Regions from separate parts of the Homo sapiens genome. Here region 1 is linked to region 2. Evidence: fine-mapped expression QTL. Tissue or cell type: T cells. Region 2 holds a variant in brackets; the other region holds the start of a gene. All regions are shown on one strand. Distances are between the middles of the regions.

Region 1 (4,000 bases), 93 kb after region 2:
TTTATAAGACCCATTCTAGGTCTCTTTCTGAATCCCCTTCCTCCCATCATCACAAAGAGGTTGACATTTTCCATATCTCTATCCCATTCCCCCACATGACTGGCTTCTCTCCCTTTCCTGGAATGCCTCCTGGATGGAGGATTAACTTATATAATAGATGTTTATAAAATGTTTCTGAAATGTTTAAAATGTATATAAAATGTGAATATTAGAAATTTTTTAAATTTTGATTATCTTGACATATCTCTTAGCCCCACAGGAAGAGGCTAGCAGCTTACTCTGGCCGCTACAGGGTTTTTAGCAGTGAAGCTGCAGTCCCACAGAGTTGTCCAGCTGAGAAACCCCTTTAAGACCAGTCAAGTCAACCTCCTCACTGTACAGATGGGCTAGGAACAATGAGGTCCAGGGAGAGGGAAGGTATTATTTGCAGCTCAGCATAACCTGAGCCTGAGGTCTATAGTATAAGATCCTGTGTACAAATGGAAGGCCTGCTTCCAGGTCTGGAAAAGCTCATAGGCTGGGGAAGGAACAAGACACATGAGTGCTCTCTCTCTCTCTCACACACACACACACACACACACACATGAATGCACACACACATACACACACACAAACAAAGGATTTAAATTTAACATTTCTAAAATGCTCCCTCAAGCCCCAGGCTTAAGCCCTAGCTCAAACCAACAGACTTGGAGAAGGTAGAGAGATACATTATAAAACCTGCTAGAGAATGGAAATGTGGTAGTTATAGAAAGAAAAATGTTTTTTCAGGAGCATTAACTCTGCCACTAATGCTCTTTGGCTTGGGGGCAAATTATTTTTTCTCTTGGTTGACTTAATTCAGAGTCTTTTCTAACTCTGAGGTTCCAGAGTGTGATGGGTCACAGAGCCCCAGGATAGGGTAACCTAATCAGAGTCAGCTACGGAAAGCTGGATTCTTTCTGACCTAACAAGTGACACCAAGCTAACACCTATCCAGCCTTTTTCTCTAGGGATGATAGGGAAGCAGCAAAATCCCCCTTTACCCTATATTGGATCTCACTTAGCTGTTACCCAGGTTGAGTTTCCTGAAAATCCATCTCACTTCTCAGGAGTGTAGATGAGGATAGAGCTTCCCAAGCTCCAAGGAAATAATGCCACTATGGAATAGTCCATCCTCCTTTGGGATTTGTATCCAGCCCATAAATAGCCCAGACAAATTGAGCCATGTCTATAGGGAAGTGAGTTATCCCAGGAATGGGTAAGAAACCAAGTCCTATGAAGACCAGTTGAAAAAGCTGGGGCTGTTCAGCTTGGAGGAGAGAAGAGTCAAGGAGACATAGTACTTGTCCTCAGGGCTTTGAAGGGCTATCACAGGGCAAGGAAGCATCTATGTTCTGTGTAGCCCCAAGAAGCAAAGCTGGGGTTTTTGGATGGAAGTCAGAGGGAACTGGATTTAGTTCAACACAAATAAGAACTTTCTAACAGTTGGAGCTGCTCCTGGATGGACTAGATGGTCTGGGGAGGTAGTGAACAGTGAAATCTCAATCACTACTGGATGTTTCTGAGCACTTATTCATGACAATGAAGGGTGGTATAGGTTACTTCTATAGTCCTATCCAACTCTTAGAAAACACTCCTTCTTCGGGGGCTGTATATTTTAACAGAGACCAAAGCTTGGAAGCAGAGTGGTTAAGTCCAATTGTAGAATTTTAGATGAGAGACAGCAGATGGAGGAAAGATTCGGATGTCATTGGGAACCTTCTTGATGCCCCTGAGATACAAGCCCTAGAAAATAATGCAGATGTTTTCCAAGAGAAAAATCCTTTTTCAATTTCTGCCCAAACTTGCCTTCTGGCTTCTTCAGCAGCCTTCAACTACATCCATCCGTTTTGCTCAAGGCTGAGAGAGCCTGCAGAGTTTGGCTGAGAAGACTCACCTGCCCAGTAGGAATAGGCTTTCCATAGTAGACATTAAACACCAACCCTCTAGCCTTTTGCCTAAGCCAGCAATGGCAGCCAGGCCCCCCTTTCTGCCTTACCATAAGTGTCCACTGTTAGGTGCCCCAGGAGTAGCAGGCCCAGTAAGATCCCCATCACAGCCAGAGCTACTTCTGTCCTTTCTTCCAGCCTCCTGCTACCAAAGAGGCTCAAACTTCTGGTGGCCGCCAGCGTCTGTGACTGCTTACTTCCCTTCCTTCCCTATATCTCTCACTCAAACTCCTAGTCCCATCACACATTCCCCTTCCTTCCCTATTTCAGTACAGGTCATGTGGGGTGCCCCCCTTCCCCCACCTCCTTGGGGTTGGAGGTTCCAGGATGAGTGAAGCAATTCTTCCCCCTGCTAGGGTATTGACTTGACTTTCCTTGGAGCCAATGGGGCTTTCTGGTCTTTGATCTCCTAGGCTGTATTTATTTTGAGTCTCCTCCACAAGATTCAGAGGTTGTGGGGGCGACCTTTGGGATGAGTCTTCCCACTCCAGTATGGCGGTGTTTTCCTTTGTGGTGAGCCCAGGGAGAAGAGATCAACTTTGCTGACCTACCCAATTTTCATTAGTTGTACTGTTAACCCTTGCCTGTGCAGCCTATGCAACTGGACAGGGTGTTGGGCCCGGGGTGCTTTTGGGCTTAAGAGTACAAGAGTTTAGTGTATTAAAGGGCTTTCTACACATCAAAGCTTGAATAATTGACAAGCCAATGGATAAGGCTGTTATGGGTGAATATGCCTCATATCTCATATTGGGGAAGCTCTTTGAATCACTTTCTACAATGGCTCCACCTCTCTGATGGTAAGGGAGAATTCATTTTCATTAATGTTCTCCATGCTTTTTCATAAGGAATTTATTTTTTACTTCTTTTAAGGGAAATTTAAGCCTAGCCTCCAGTGCAGCAGCCCATTAGTGGTATGCTGTATTAGGTTGAATTTTTCATTGACTTCCAATTGGTACAGGCCCTTGACCTACAAGAGAGTAATATTATGCCTCCTAGCAAAGCTCAACTGCTCCAGAAATTGCTCCTCTTCACAGGCCCCAGAGTGACTGTAATTTCATCAGCAGTCTAACTAGGTTTGGCACTGCGCTTTGTCTACTAAGCTTTGAAACAATAAGCACTTTCAAAAGCACAAATACATCCCAAAAATTCATACTGCACTGTAAGTAACAGCTAAGCTTAGTTTACTCTTTGATTGGAGGGATAGGAAAGGACTTGGTCAGGGGAGGGAGGAGTTTGTGCAGAGATGGGGAGTGGGAATATAAAGAAACATACTTGCCAAGGGGTGGCTGCATGCAGATGATTTGGAGCTGTGCACGGGCTAAGGAGACATTCCAGCATTTCAGGACACATTATTACATGGAATTCTATCAATCACCTCTGCCTCTAGGGCCCAATCCCCCTTGGCTGGTTGTTCCTTGTTTTTTGAGTACTGCACTCATTCCATCTCACTGGAAATTTCAGCCATTTTTTCCCACCGGGTCCTCACTCAGGAAACCCTGAACTTCACAGAACCCTCCTTTGATATTTTTCAACCAACACCCTATCACCACTACACCACCACCACCGCACAGACACACACACACACACACACACACACACGCACACACATACACACACACACACCCCTCCCCTTCCCCGCTAAAAAGCCCACTGGACAGATGTAAATTTCTGCCTGGCCAGGTGATTGTGTGTTTTGTGCTACCTCTTGCATTTTATTAGGACCTCCTGGATCTGAAGATAAATAAATGTCCTGGGGAGTATGCACAACATTACTTCAAGGCTGGGAAAGACTTCCAGTCTTGCAGTAGGCTCAGTAGCCCTCTTGATTAGTAAAAGAATTGGATGAGAAGTCAGAAACCTGGAGATAAGCCTGGCTCTGTGTCTACTTCATTCTGAGATCTTGAACAAGTCAAATCTCTCTGAACCTCAGCTTCCCTAATTGTAACATGAACATAATTATACTTGATGCTTGTATCTTTTCAGATTTATAAAAATCAAACTATACTATACATACAATAACAACTATATAA
Region 2 (5,970 bases):
CCTGAGACTGAGTAATTTACAAAGAAAAGAGGCTTAATTAACTCACAGTTCAGCATGGCTGGGGAGATCTCAGGAAACTTACAGTCATGGCGGAAGGGGAAGCAAACACATCCCTCTTCACAGGGCGGCAGGAAGAGGTATGAGAGCCAAGTGAAGGGGGAAGCCCCATTAAAACCATCAGACCTCAAGAGAAGTCACTCATTAGCACAAGAACAGCATGATCAGCATGGGAGTAACCGCCCCCATCATTAAATTACCTCCCACCAGGTGCCTCCCACAACACATGGGGATTATGGGAACTACAATTCGAGATGAGATTTGGGTGAGGACACAGCCAAACAATATCGATGATCTTTCTTCCTATTTTGATGCCTTTTATTTCTTTCTCTTGCCCAATTGCTCTGGCTAGAACTTCCAGTACTATGTTGAACAGGAGTTGTGACAGTAGGAATCCTTGTCTTGTTCTGGTTATCAAGGAGAATGCTTCCATTCAGTATGATGTTGGCTGTGGGTTTGTCATAGAAGGCTCTAATTTTTTCAAGGTATGTTTGTTCCTTCAATGTCTAGTTTGTTGAGGATTTTTAACATGAAGGGATGTTGAATTTTATCAAAACCCTTTTCTGCATCCATTGAGATGATTATGTAGACTTTGTTTTTAGTTCTCTTATGTAATGAATTACATTTATTGATTTGTGTATGTTGAACCATTCCAGGGATAAAGCCTGGTGTATTAACCATTTGATGTGATGCTGGATTTGGTTTGCCAGTATTTTGTTCAGGATTTTTGCATCTATGTTCATCAAGGGTACTGTCCTGAAGTTTTCCTTTTTGGTTGTGTCTCTGCCAGGTTTTGATGTCAGCATGATGCTGGACTCATAGAATGAGTTAGGGAGGAGTCCTTCTTCTTCAAGTTTTTGGAGCAGTTTGGAGTAGGAATGGTGCCAGGTCTTCTTTATACAGCTGGTGGTTTAATCTTGAAATGGTGAATGTTATCAGGAATTTATCAATTTCTTTTACGATGTCTAGTTTCTGTGCATAGAGGTGTTCATACTAGTCTCTGAGGTTTTTTTGTATTTCTGTGGGGTCAGTGGTAATACCCTCTTTGTCGTTTCTAATTGTGTTTATTCGGATCTTCTCCCTTTTCTTCTTTATTAGTCTAGCTAGCAGCATATCAATCCTATTTATTCCTTCCAAGAACCAACTTGTGGTTTGTCGAGCTTTTGTATGGTTTTTCACAATTCAATTTCATTCAGTTGTGCTCTGATTTTGGTTACTTCTTGTCTTCTGCTAACTTTGGGGTTGGTTTGATCTTGTGTTTCTAGTTCTTGTAGGAGTGATGTTAAGTTGTTAATTTGAGATCTTTCCAACTTTTTGATGTGGGAGTTTCATGCCATACATTTTCCTCTTAACACTGCTTTATCTTTGTTTGAGAGATTCTGGTATGTTGCATCTTTGTTCTCATTCAAAGAATTTGCCTCAATTAAAAGACACTACGTGGCAAGTTGGATCAAGGTGCAAAATCCAAATGTCAAAGAATTTCTTGATTTTCTAGTTAATTTCATTTTTTACTCAAAAGTCATTCAGAAGCAGATTGTTTAATTTTCATGTAATTGTATCATTTTGAGCAATCTTCTTAGTATTGATTTTAATTTTTATTGCACTGTTGACTGAGAGTGTGGTTGGTATGATTTGAGTGTTTTTGATTTTGCTGAGAATTGTTTTATGGCTAATTGTATGGTTGATTTTAGAGTGTTTGTCATGTGCAGAGGAGAAGAATGTATATTCTATTCTTGTTGGGTGGAGTGTTCTGTCATATGTCTGTTAGGTCCAGTTAATCAAGTGTTGAGTGTAAGTTTAGAATATCTTTTTCAGTTTTCCATTTCAATGATAATCTAATAATGTCAGTGGAGTGTTGAAGTCTCCTATTATTATTGTGTGGTTATCTAAGTCTCTTTGCAGGCCTCTTAGAACTTGTTTTATGAACCTAGCTTCTTCTATGTTAGGTGCATACATATTTAAGATAGTTAGATCTTCTTGTTGAATTGAACCCTTTACCATTATGGAATGCCTGTCTTTGTCTTTTTGGATCATTGTTGGTTTCAACTCTATTTTGTCTGAAATTAGAATAGCAACCCCTGCTTTTTTCTGTTTTTCATTTGCTTGGTCAATTTTTCTCTATCCCTTTACTTTAAGATATGGATGTCATTACATGTGTGATGGATCTCTTAAAGACAGCATAGATTTGGGTTTTGCTTCTTGATCCAACTTGCTACTCAGTGTCTTTTAATTGAGGCATTTAGCTCATCTACATTCAAGGTTAATATTGATATTTGCAGATTTGATACTGTCATGTTGTTAGCTGGTTATTATGCAGACTTGATTTTGTAGTTGTTTTGTAGTGTCAATGGTCTATGTACTGAAGTGTGTTTAACACTCCCTTAAGGGTCTCTTGTAAGGCAGGTCTGATAGTAATGAATTTCCTTAGCATTTGCTTGTATGGAAAGTATCTTATTTCTTTTTCACTTATGAAGCTTAATTTGGCTGGATATAAAATTATTGGTTTGAATTAATTTTCTTTAGGAATGATAAATATGGGCCCCCAATCTTTTCCAGTTTCTAGAGTTTCTGTTGAAAGATCAGCTGTTAGCCTAATGGTATTGTTTTTGTAGGTGACCCGCCCCTTCTCTCTAGCTGCCTTTAACATTTTTTCTTCCATTTCAACCTTGGAGAATTTGATGACTATGTGTCTTCGGGATGATCATCATGTCATACAGTCTGGAGTCTTGCCCTGACACTCTCTAAAGCAGCTTTCTTTACCAGCTCAAGTGTCCACTGGGGTCATGAGGTCTCCTGCTGATAGGATTCCAGAGGTGTGTAGTGAGAGTGGGCCACTCCTTGCCTGTTCAACTCACCCCTTTCTTAGGAGTCTCTGGGAGCCAAGAATGAGTCCCAGTACTCCTCAGCCCCCTGCAGGGTTCCCAACTT[C/T]TTCTCCCATTGGCCCAGTGTCTATATCCTCCCCCGCATCCATTCTTAATGCCTTCCCTCCAAAGATCTGCTTGAAGTGTGCCAGTCTTTCTGATATCCCAGTCTCTCAGTGGGAGATGTTTCTCCTGGCTGTTTCTAGTTGACCATCTTGAATCCTGGATGTACAGCTACTGTCTTCTCTATTGTTACATTCCAGGTCTCTTTACTTTGCTCCAGACAGGTGATTAGGTGTGGCTTAGAGACAGCGAAACCGTTTTCCAGCTTCTGAAGGGCCCCAGCATCCCCCTATGTGTCTCTGAGTACCTGCTGATCACAGAGCAATAGAACCTGTGACAGAATCACCTGGGCCTCCTTTAACAGAAGACATGAAGCAGTGAAGACAACTCAACTAAATATTTTCTAATGTAGCATTTTAAATTAAATTTTTTTTTTTTGCTATATGTTTTTGAAGAATTTGTAAGTGTTGCTTTAGGGTATGCCATATAAATATTAACTTATAGAATCCACTTCAAACTTATACTAGCATAATTCAGAAATGCTACTTATAGATAGCTCTATTATCTTTTCCTCATTTTGTGGGATTATTGTTCTATGTATGACATTAATTAATGCTACAAACCCGGTAACATATTGTTATGATTATTATTTTATCATTGGTAATTATTTCTTTAGCCCAGCACAGCTTTACTTTTGCCAACCTCCTTTGTGCTGTTAGTGACAAATATAATACATATATATTACATTTCTATAAGTTAAAGGCCCAAAAATACATTACATACATATTATCGTACACAATTGCTTTTTAAATCAAATGAAGAAAAAAATACAAAACCTATGCATTTACACTGTCTTTTGTAGTTACAAAATTTCCTTTACCAGTGCTCTTTCTTTTTTTGTGTGGATTTGAATTACCAAATGGGATTACTGGTGTTCATCCTGAAGATTTCCTTTACTATTTTCTATAAGGCAGATTTGCTAGCAACAAATTTTTCTAGTTTTTGCTTTTCTAGTTTCCATTTCTATTAATGTTTGAATGATAGTTTGGTTGGCTATAGAATGCCTGGTGGATAGAATTTTTTTCGGAATAATTTCAATGCTTTCCCACTGCCTTATTGATCTCCATAGTTTCTTCTGAGGAGTCAGCTGTTAATACTATTAGAGTTCCCTTCTAAATAATAAGCTGTTTTTCTCTTGTTGCTTTCAGAATTTTCTTCTTGAATTTGACTTTCAGAAGTTTTACTATGATGATGTATTTATTTGTAGATCTCTTTGTGTTTATCCTATTTGAAGTTCATTAAACATCCTGAATGTGTATGCTGTTTTTTGATAACCTTGTGAGGTTTTAAGACATTATTTCTTCACATATGTTTTTCTGCTTCTTCCCCTTTTCTTCTTCTGATACTGACATTACACATATGTTGGTGCACTTAATGATGACCCACATTACTCTGACAGTGTTCATTTTTCTCTATTGTTTTTTCTCTCTGTTCTTTGGCTTGCATATCTATCACTCTATCTTCAAGTTCACTTATTCCTTCTTCTGGCAGTTCAATCAATGTCTCCTCCAGTGGATTTTAAATTTTAATTATTTTGCTTTTCAACTTCAGTGCTTTCATTAGGCTCTTCTTTTTTTTTGTATAAATTTACAGGATGCAAGTATAGTTTCATTACATGGAGGGATTACATAGTAGTGAAGTTAGGGCTTTTAGGGTATCCATCACCTGAATAATGTACATTGTAACATTAAGTAATTTCTTATCCACTCCAAGCCCCCCACTTCTATTTTTCCAAGTTTCCATTGTCTGTTATCCCACACTGTACATCCATGTGTACTCCTTATTTAGCTTTTACTTTCAAATGCGAACATATTGTATTTGTCTTTCTGTATCTCAGTTATTTCACTCAGGAGAATGGCTTCCACTTCTATGCATGCTGCTGCAAAAGACATGAGTTCATTCTTCTTATGGCTGAACAGTATTCGATTGTGCAGATATACCACATTTTTAATCCAAGCATTGACTGATGGACACAGAATGATATCATATCTTTGTTATTGCAAATAGTGCTATGATTAACATGCAAGTTATCTTAAAATATTTCTGTCTTTCTGCTGATATTCTCAGTTTGATATGACATTATCATATCTTGTTTTACTTCTGTAATCATGGTTTCTTCAGTTCTATGAGCATGTTTATAATTGCTACTTTAAAGTCATTCTGATAAATCCAACATCTGATTCTTCTCATTAGCAGTTGCTTTTTTAGTGTACAGATTATAATTTCTTCTTTGTATTCCTCATAATTTTATGTTAAAAACCAGAATATTTTTATTTTTATTTTTAGAGATAGAGATAGGGTCTCACTATATGCTGGGATGACAGGTGTGAGCCACTGTGTTCAGCCAGATCATTTTCACGGGTGTCCAGCCCTTTGAATTCGGGGATTTTTTGCTTATCTATGGTGGTGTAGATCACACAAATTATGCACTGACTTTCCTTTTTCTCATGAGCAATCATTAGTGTTCATGTTAGCAAAGACAATTTTTCTTCTTCCAGTGTGGCCCAGGGAAGCCAAAAGGCTAGACACGTGGGTTTTAAGTAATATTTTGTAGTAACTCTGAGTACTGGTGGTCCACCCTCTAGAGTTTGTTAATGCTTTTGGCTTGTTTAGTGACTTACTGGATTACTTTAGTGTTGTCTATCCCTCTCTTCCTCACGTAGTGTTAAGCATTTGATGTCGCTCCTCATAGAGGCACAGCTTTGGGCACTTCCACAGTCATCCTAGAATAACAGTGGTTTTGGTAGGGCTCTCTTTCTCCCCCTGACCACACAGCTCCTAAATTCTATTAATTGCAGAAAGACTTCTCTATTGCTTTCAGTGGTGCTCTGGGACATATATTGCTCTACAAATTAGTTAAATTTTGGGTTGTTTTGAAAGAGAGATTTCTGAGGTTAGTGTTTGATACTTGTTCTGACTCCAGAAGCAT

What was found. PIP is the estimated chance that this variant, and not a neighbour inherited with it, causes the effect.
Region 1: it holds the start of VSIG4, and the variant in region 2 is fine-mapped to the expression of VSIG4 in T cells (TOPMed, PIP 0.94).

What each region holds. Positions count from the first base shown.
Region 1 is chrX:66,037,924-66,041,923 of GRCh38, forward strand. VSIG4 (V-set and immunoglobulin domain containing 4) reads right to left here and starts at 2,157. Exons shown (of 8, transcript NM_007268.3): 1 at 2,021-2,157. The coding sequence starts at 2,075.
Region 2 is chrX:65,944,175-65,950,144 of GRCh38, forward strand. No RefSeq gene overlaps it. Among named protein-coding and RNA genes, the nearest start is that of MIR223HG, 68 kb to the right of the region's middle. The variant C/T (reference allele first, on the strand shown) is at 2,986.